Homo sapiens: one gene and its partners. The protein of the gene in region 1 interacts with the protein of each later gene in a pairwise test. Each region holds a gene or a part of one and is shown in the gene's direction. Other genes may lie near its edges. The genes, in order: TMEM62, ZNF287 and LTA4H.

Region 1 (3,744 bases):
AGTTGTGATGTTAATTATGAAGGCATTTCCTTTCTCTCTCCACCAGTTTTCCTGTGTCCAACCCTGGGGTTTTATTTGGAGCGTACTCCAGATAAAAGGACCTAAACTTTACCTGCCCTTATAAACACTTAAATTGTGTTAGTTACAATAGAATAATTTTTAAAAACAGTATATTGGAAATATTAGGCTAGGCCTTGTTGTAGATGCAGATAAATCCAGAAATATCAGTGGCTTAACACAAATGTTTTTCATTTGTATAAATTCAATATGAGTCAGAACAACTCTTATCCATGGGATGAGTCAGTAATTCAGACTTCCTCCATCTTAAAATTCCTATTTCGACATGTCGATTCCAGGGCAGGGAAGAGAGCAAGGAGAACTCACACCCACTCTTAAGTACTTTGGACCACAGGCATGATATGTGTCACTTCTCTTCACAGCCCATTGGCCAAAACTAGTCACATGGTCCCAACCTGATACCAGGAGACTGGGAAATTCAGGGGAATGTGTAGAGAATTTCGTGAGCACTATTGTTTCTGCCATAGTGAATCATTTCTTTTTTTAGTTCTAAAAGTTAGAAAATATAAAACTTTGGTTATTCTTTAATGAATATTTTATACCTTTTGTTATTGCATTTGGAAAATGAAAACAACTTTAATTTCTTTGAAATTATAGAAATAAATGTTTAATGCTAGGCATGGTGGCTTACGCCTATAATCCCAGCACTTTGGGAAGCCAAGGTGAGGGGGATCACCTGCGGTCAGGAGTTCGAGACCAGCCTGGCCAACATGGTGAAACCCTATCTCTGCTAAAAATAGCCAGGTGTGGTGGCGGGCACCTGTAATCCCAGCTACTTGGGAGGCTGAGGCAGAGGTTGCAGTGAGCCAAGACTGCGCCACTGCACTCCAGCCTGGGTGACGGAGTGAGACTCCATCTCAAAAATAAGAAAAAAAAAAAAAAAAAAGAAAGAAAGGTTTAAAAGAAGCATGAAAGATTTCTAATTTTGTTCATATCAACCATTTTAATATTTTATGTAGCATTGTTGATGGGATGAAGAATGTCAAGTATTAGGGTTATAATAAATATTTTAGGTTCAAAATTGTCTTAAAGTACAGGGATAAGATGAGTTACTTCAACAAGTATTTATTTAAAAATTAAAGAGTACATGCCGTGTACCAGGTGTTGTTCAAGAGCACAGTTGAATCCATTGCCCAGTCAGAGGCAGTTATGTGACAAATGTGAAGGATAAAGTGATGGGGTAAGGGAAGAAAGAAAGAAAATATTACTTAATCTGTATTCAAATTAATCATGTAAAAAAGTCCTAGTTATGTATTTTTATATTTGTTCTGTATATTACCTTCATGACCTCTTACAATGTGAAGTGACTAAATTACCTTATCATTATCTGGTCTTTAGGTACCGGATTTTTGCTTTTGATCACGACCTCTTTAGCTTTGCAGATTTGATCTTTGGGAAGTGGCCTGTGGTTCTTATCACCAATCCTAAATCACTCCTTTATAGTTGTGGTGAACATGAACCACTAGAAAGACTTCTTCACTCAACACACATCAGGTATGTAGCAATTTTTTAGAATTTACTTTCAGTTTGATAATGAAGGAGAATAAGTCATTGTGATTGCATTCCCATGTGAAAGCTATGAGATGCCCCATTTTAGTTTTCTCAACAACCTAAACATTATATAAAGATAGATTGCTTACTGTTTTGTTTCCATTAAGTTAAAAAGCATATCATTTTTTTAAGCTGATGAAATTTTAAAAACCATTCAGAAATCTATAATTCTACCATTATTATTTTTGTTTTATTTTATTCCAGCCTTTTTATTTGGACGCTTTTACATTGCTATAAGCATAATGTACATATTCCTTTATAGTCTACTTTTTAAAATTTGCATTATATATCAAATTTTTTTTCATTTGTTATGTAGCCTTCTAAGAAAGCAAAAGCTATATATATAATCCTTATGGAATTGAAAATTCAGTTGGCAAATGAATTTGTTTTGTTTTGTTTTGTTTTGATTTTCGACAGAGTCTTGCTTTGTTGCCCGGGCTGGAGTGCAGTGGCCTGATCTTGGCTCACTGCAACCACTGCCTCCCGAGTTCAAGCTTTTCTCATGCCTCAGCCTCTGGAGTAGCTGAGATTACAGATGTGTGCCACCACGCCTGGCTAATTTTTGTATTTTTAGTAGAGAGAGGGTTTCACCGCGTTGGCCAGGCTGGTCTCGAACTCCTGACCTCAAGGGATCCGCCCTCCTACGCCTCCCCAAGTGCTGGGATTACAGGCTTGAACCACCATGCCTGGCCATGAATTTGATTATATAGATTAATAGAATCCAAATGGGACATTAACATTCTTTTTGCAAAGAGATATATAACTTGTTTCAAATGTAAGAGCACTTTTTAAAATATACTTTTACAATTTATTTTGAAAAGTAATACAATAGAACAACCTTTGGAAAATAGGGTAATGGGATTTTAAGTATGTTTTTCTCCACTTCTAATAGAACTATTATTAGCACTTCTGAGTATTTCTTCTCAGGCATTCTCTCTTAAGATGTTTTTATATAATTATAATCATAAGGCACAGTCTATTCTAATTCCTGATTTGTTTTCTTTCAGCACAAAGAATGTACCACAGTTTTTCTAACCATTTTCATATCTCATTGGTGAACTTTTAAGGTTTTTCTTATTTGTGGATGAATATCTGGTACATATATATTCTTCCTTCACTTGAATAATTTCTTTAAGAAAGAGTTCTAGAAGTGGGATTCTAGGTGAAAGAATTTGAATTCTTTTATGACTGTTGATAAAAATTGCTCAATCCCTTTTTTTTTGGAGCTAAAATCACTATTTTTAATCATGGTAAGCATGATTAAACAAAGTACACATGGCATAAAATGTACCATTTTAACCATTTTCAAGTGTACAGTTCAGTAGCATTAAGTTTGCTTCAAGTTTACATTGTTTTGCAACCATCACCATTATCCATTTCCAGAACATTTATCATTTTCTAAAACTGAAACTTTTACCCATTAAACAATAACTTCCTGTTCTTCCCTCTCCCACAGCCCCTGGCAACCACCAATCTACTTTCTGTCTCTATGAATTTGACTACTCTAGCTAACTCATATAAGTGGAACCATTCAATATTTATACTTTTGTGACTGGCTTATTTTCATTTAACATGATGTCTTCAAGGTTTATACATGTTGTGGCATATGTCAGAATTTCCTTCCTTTTAAAGGCTGAATAATGTTCCATTGTACATTGTGTGTGTGTGTGTGTGTGTGTGTGTGTATATACACACATATGTATACACACATACACACATACCACATTTTGTTTATGTGTTCAATGGACACTTGGGTTGCTTCTAACTTTTGGCTATATTGAATAACGCTTCTATGAATATGAGTGTACAGATAACGGTTCAAGTCCCTGCTGTCACTTCTTTTAGATATATATCCAGAAGTGGAATTGCTGGATCATATGGTAATTATCTGTTTAATTTTTTAAGGAGCTGCCATACTGTTTTCCATGGTGGCTGCACCATTTTACATTCCCACCAGCAGTGTATCAGGTATCCAATTACTTTCAACAACAGATGCTAATTTATCATATTACCAAGCAATATGAATGCCAAATTCACAATACTCTTATTATTATTGGATATTATGCTTTAAAAAGTATTTACTAATTAACTTGTAAAAAATGGTACCAAGATGTT
Region 2 (3,744 bases), on another chromosome or scaffold:
GATATGTCTTTCCTTACTTTGACTTTGTCAGCAATATCACATAGAGAATACGAGATTGACCTCCACAGCCAGATGGATTTAGGTTTTGTTTCCCGGCTCTACCATTGGAACTGCAATTTGGGACAAGATACTTAACCTCTCTTAGCCTGAGTTATTCTACTCTCATAAATAGAATTTACCTCTTAGGTTGTGAGTATTAAATATTATGAGACTTGTAGTTAGCCTGGATTACAGTTAAGCAATTAATAGATGATTGTTACTATTATTTTTCCTCATTAACAAGTAGTTAAAGGCCATGCATTCTGTCATATTACTGTTGGTCATGAATTTATATATATTTTTTGAGACAGAGTCGCACTCTGTTGCCCAGGCTGGAGTGCAGTGGTGCGATCTTGGTCCACGGCAGCCTCCACCTCCTGGGTTCAAGTGATTCTCATGCCACAGCCTCTGGAGTAGCTGGGGTTACAGGTGCATGCCACCATGCCTGGCTAATTTTTGTATTTTTAGTAGAGACAGGGTTTCGCCATGTTGCTCATGCTGGTCTTGAACTCCTGACCTCAGGTGATCCACCCGTGTTGGCCTCCCAAAGTGCTGGGATTACATGTGTGAGCCACCGCGCCCGGCCATGAGTCTATATTATTTTAAAGAATAGTAACTCAAGATACCTTAAGAGAAAGATTTACTGTAAAAATATAACTGGTTTTTCTGAAATTGGAAAGCTTTTGGTAACCAAGTTAAAATGATTATTCATTGATAGTGTGAACATTTACCTGGAAAGCCTAACAAAATCAAGGGAAAAAGTGTTAGAAACACTAATAGAAAAATTGGATAAAATGACTACAGAAAATGACATGCAAAAATCAATCACTTACATATATATACTTATATATATATCTACATATATACATATAAAAATGAGATAAATGATAAAATGAAAAAAATGCCTCCAGTATCACACCCCCGAAAAAAATTTAAAATATCTAAAACTAAGCATAATATAAATATTGCAGTACTTTCATGTCTAATATTTTGTAGAACATGAAAGAAACCTTGAATATTATAAAGTCATCAGTTCTCCCTAAGTTATAAACTTAATACAATTTTTAAATCCCAGTATGATTTAAAAGAAAAGATTTTTTAAGAGATGGGATCTCACTATGTGCCCAGGCTGGTCTTAAACTTCTGGCCTCAAAGTGATCCTCCTGCCTTGGCTTCCCAAAGTGCTGGGATTACAGGTATGAGCCACTGCGCCTGGCCTCCAATATGACTTTTTTAAAGATACTGACAATTATATGAAAAAATAAACACGTGGCCAGGCGCAGTGGCTCACACCTGTCATCCTATCACTTTGGGAGGCCAAGGCAGCTGCATCACCTGAGGTCAGGAGTTTGGAGACCAGCCTGGCCAACATGGCAAAACCCTGTCTCTACTAAAAATACAAAAATTAGCTGGGCATGGTGGCGTGCACCTGTAATCCCAGCTACTCAGGAGGCCACTGCACTCCAGCCTGGGCGACAGAGCAAGACTCTTTCTCAAATAAAAAAAGAGAAAAAAGAAACATGTAAGATAATACTATATTTTTAACAAAAGGAGCAAACAAGAAAAGCACTAACCTTACCAGATTGTGAAATGTATTTAACAGTGCAGCAGTTCAACACTGTGATTATTGGTATCTGTTATATTTTTAAAAAGAAAGACTGAATTTAACCATAGAACACATAAAAATATCTTAACATTTTAATTATAACATGTTGGATTTATTCTTAAAGCACAGCTTGAAAAGCAAAACCATTCAACTGTGTCATCTGTGTTTAAAATTTAAAACTCAAGTCAGGCCTGGTGGATCACTCCTGTAATCCCAACACTTTGGGGAGCTGAGGTGAAGGATCGCTTGAGTTCAGGAGTTTGAGACCAGCCTGGGTGGCATAGCAAAACCCCATCTCTACAAAAAAAAATTAAAAATTAGCCAGATGTGGTGGTGTGTGCCTGTAGTCCTAGCTACTCAGGAGGGTGAGGTGAGAGGATCACTTCTGCCCAGGAGTTTGAGGCTGCAGTGAACAATGATTGTACCATCGCACTCCAGTCCAGGTGACCAGGCAAGACCCTGTCTCTTTTAAAAATAATGATAATAAACCTTTTCCTTTTAAAAATGGAGCTGCCAGCAATGCATGCACTAGTCCAGCACAGGCAACAGAGCGAGACTCTGTCTCTTTTAAAAATAGTAATGATAAACCTTTTCTGTTTAAAATGGAGCTGCCACCAATGCATGCATGAGTGCTAAGTGAAAATAAATTCTGATCTATTTTCAAACTTCCGTTTAGGGTCATGGAGAGATGCTGTAGGGCTGTCCATATGTCAGGGGAGGGTTTTGACTAGACAACTTCTAGGATCCTACTAAAGCTTAAAATTCTGTGACAGTCCCCCACCATACATATACCCAGTGTTATCAGTGTCCCCTTTGCCATTAGTTCTTGAACTGAGTTAAGTTACATTTGATATTTTAGGAATCGATGACATTCAAAGATGTGGCTGTAGACATCACCCAGGAGGACTGGGAGTTAATGCGTCCTGTGCAGAAGGAATTATACAAGACTGTGACGTTACAGAACTATTGGAACATGGTTTCTCTGGGTAAGGATCATCTGCATCCCTCCTCCTCCGAGCCTGTTCCCATTAAAAATGGGTTGGTCCTCAGACATGCTTGGCTAAAAATGGGGTCCAGAAATAAATGTTCTTATCTCATTCAAGCACGAAAGTGACTGTTTTACTCCCGTTTTCCAAATGAAAGGTTCTTAAGTGAGAGAACATTGGCAACTGATGCACAGCTTCATAGTGCTGCCACCTGATGCTGCCTTGCCCAGCCTTTGCTACTCTAAGGGAATGTTTCTTCCTTCACATATCCTCTTCAGTGGCAGGAAATTGTTATCCTGTCTCTGAAAGGATAACAATCAACAGCCTAATTCTCTTATTAGATCATGTCCATGAACTATTGTTTTCCTACAGAGGTCTGTTCTCCCAGATAGGTAGAAGTCTGGTAATAAAACTTTGAGCAACCATTTATCTCCAGGATAAAATTCTTTATATTCCTCCTGAACAGGACTTACAGTGTACAGACCAACTGTGATTCCCATATTGGAAGAACCATGGATGGTGATAAAAGAAATTTTAGAAGGCCCTAGTCCAGGTGAGAAACAAAAAGCGCATGAGCTTCTTTGTATTTAAGAATCTATATCCTAAATGTGGTGAGAAATGCATTTTAAATATGACCAGGTCACTTTTTGCAAAGGCATTCTAGCCTGTGAAGAACACTGAGCTGTTTGGCATTGCTTCCTTACAGAGGCCTCTTCAGGAAGAGCTTCCTAACATCACTGTTAACACACTTTTCCCGTGTCTCTTCTCATTTTATCCTTCTACATGACCTCTAGGTCCCATCTCTTAAGAGCTTTGTCTAGGGCTTTCATTGTGCCACTTTCCCCTTCCTCTAGATTTAAACATGTATGAATGCCCCCTAAAAATTTAAATGTTAAACCTTCTTCTTTTTGAGTTTCTTTTATTCTGTTCACTGACAAATCCCTACATCCCCCTGCCTTCACTTTTCTAAATCATCCCTTTCTTTTTTATTTTCTAATTATTTAAAAAGATAATATATTCACAAGATTCAAAATGTTTAAAAGTATATAAAGCAAAAAAAATATATAAATATATATAAATGTCCACCTGAATACCACATTCACCCAGTTCCTA
Region 3 (2,168 bases), on another chromosome or scaffold:
TAAATATCCATGATTACTTTTGTTTGCTTTTCATTTACTTCACAAGTATTTAGGTGGGTGCAAAAGTAATTGCAGTTTTGGCCATCAAAAGTGATGGCCATATAATATCATAAAACTTGGCAAAATAAGTCATTATCTCTTTTTTGATGTGACCACAAAATTAAGTTTTAAGTATATTTTATATGCTTTCCCTAATTAAAACCCATCTAGCTTTGAATTGAGTAAAGTATACTTTAAATAGGTTTTTAAATAAGAGTATACTTGGGCCGGGCGCGGTGGCTCACGCCTGTAATCCCAGCACTTTGGGAGGCCAAGGCAGGCAGATCACGAGGTCAGGAGTTTGAGACCAGCCTGGCTAACATAGTGAAACCCTGTCTGTACTAAAAATACAAAAAATTAGCCAGGTGTGGTGGTAGGCACCTGTAATCCTAGCTACTTGGGAGGCTGAGGCAGGAGAATCGCTTGAACCCGGGAGGCAGAGGTTGCAGTGAGCTGAGATTGCGCCATTGCTCTCCAGCTCCTCCAGCCCGGGTGACAGTGCGAGACTCTGTCTCAAAAAAAAAAAATGAATAAAATAAATAAGAGTATACCTTTTGTGGGAAAAATAAGTATTTCTGTTTTATGATGTTTATAGTAGTTACATTAAAAATGACTAATCCTACCTTTTGTATGGTAGGTCCTTTTTATTTAGTGTATTTATTATTTATTTCGTGTATTATTTATTATGTATTTATTATTTCACTGTGGTCAGGACTTTTATTCTCAATTATTTGAAGTTTTCAGAAATTCTATATAAATTTTAGTGTTTTCATACTCTTAAAATCTTGATTAAAAAATTTTTTTTAAAAGCAGTTTTTAAAAAGAAAGGCTTTGAGGCTCACTCTCACATACAGGGCTGATATTTAGCCAGGAGATGAGAGGACTCTGTTCAAATAATAAAATCCTTCCATGCTGCTTGGTAAATAGCCACGGGTCCCAGCCACTCTAGCCCTTCCCTGTAACTTGCTGCAAAATGTCTGATCTGCCAGTATAAAGGCCAGTCTCTGGTACAGAAGGAGGTCTCTGGGACCCTGTGGCAGGACCATACCCATCTGATTGGCTGGGACTGGTGCCTTATTTGGGTGATGCTGGCTGTCACCCCTGCTGACATCCTTTAATTTAATCTTGGGTATTGACTTGTGTTCTTATTCTCTTTCTCCTTCCTTTTTCCTTTCCTCTGAACCCCTTCCCTCCTTTCTTTCTTCTCTCCCTCCCTTTCTCCTCCTCTGTCTCCTTCTCGCCTTTCTTTCTTTTCAATTTTTTCTTTTTTGGCAGGGATCTTGCTGCCTTTGACAAATCCCATGATCAAGCTGTCCGAACCTACCAAGAGCACAAAGCAAGCATGCATCCCGTGACTGCAATGCTGGTGGGGAAAGACTTAAAAGTGGATTAAAGACCTGCGTATTGATGATTTTAGAGATTTCTCTTTTTTAAATGGAATTCGTAAAGAAATATAAAACTTCAGCTCACAATTAAAACTGTCTTTTTAGTTTTGGCTTTTTATTGTTTTGTTGGTGATTTTACTGAAATAAAGTTGAGCTACTTCTTCTTATAGTGGCATATTCTTTGTAAATTTTAACAAGGTTTAATCTTTTGATTTACAAATTAAAAAATTTTGAATTAGCTTTATATTAATTTTCTCTCAGTATGATCACAAAATATGTCAAGGTAGTATTTTACCTGATATATGATTTAAATTCATTAATTTGAATCTGCTGCAGATTCAAAAATTCAACATGGTTAGGATTTTGCTTTGCTTTTTAAATAACCTTAAACATAAGTCCGGGCGCAGTGGTTCATGCCTGTAATCCCAGCACTTTGGGAGGCCAAGGCGGGTGAATCACCTGAGGTCAGGAGTTTGAGACCAGCCTGGCCAACATGGTGAAACCCCGTCTCTACTAAAAATACAAAAATTAGCTGGGCGTGGAGGCACGACTGTAATTCCAGCTACTCAGGAGGCTGAGGGAGGATAAGCACTTTAATCTGGGAGGCAGGGGTTGTAGTGAGCCGAGATGGCGCCATTGCACTCCAGCCTGGGCAATGGAGACTCTGCCTCGAAAAATAAAAAATTAAAAAAAAACCTTAAACATGAATGCTTAGTTGTATTTGCACACCACCTACCTGGTGGA

What was found.
Region 2: the proteins of TMEM62 (region 1) and ZNF287 interact in a two-hybrid assay, tested with the Homo sapiens proteins (one large-scale study listed by IntAct).
Region 3: the proteins of TMEM62 (region 1) and LTA4H interact in a two-hybrid assay, tested with the Homo sapiens proteins (one large-scale study listed by BioGRID and IntAct).

The regions. Positions count from the first base shown.
Region 1 is NC_000015.10:43,150,374-43,154,117, forward strand, and holds part of TMEM62 (transmembrane protein 62), read left to right. Parts: intron 1-1,416; coding exon 1,417-1,572; intron 1,573-3,534; coding exon of another isoform or gene 3,535-3,628; exon of another isoform or gene 3,629-3,744.
Region 2 is NC_000017.11:16,562,586-16,566,329, reverse strand, and holds part of ZNF287 (zinc finger protein 287), read left to right. Parts: intron 1-2,504; coding exon 2,505-2,631; intron 2,632-3,097; coding exon 3,098-3,184; intron 3,185-3,744. UniProt on the Homo sapiens protein: May be involved in transcriptional regulation.
Region 3 is NC_000012.12:96,000,253-96,002,420, reverse strand, and holds the end of LTA4H (leukotriene A-4 hydrolase), read left to right. Parts: intron 1-1,314; coding exon 1,315-1,432; 3' UTR 1,433-1,668; downstream 1,669-2,168. UniProt on the Homo sapiens protein: Bifunctional zinc metalloenzyme that comprises both epoxide hydrolase (EH) and aminopeptidase activities. Acts as an epoxide hydrolase to catalyze the conversion of LTA4 to the pro-inflammatory mediator leukotriene B4 (LTB4).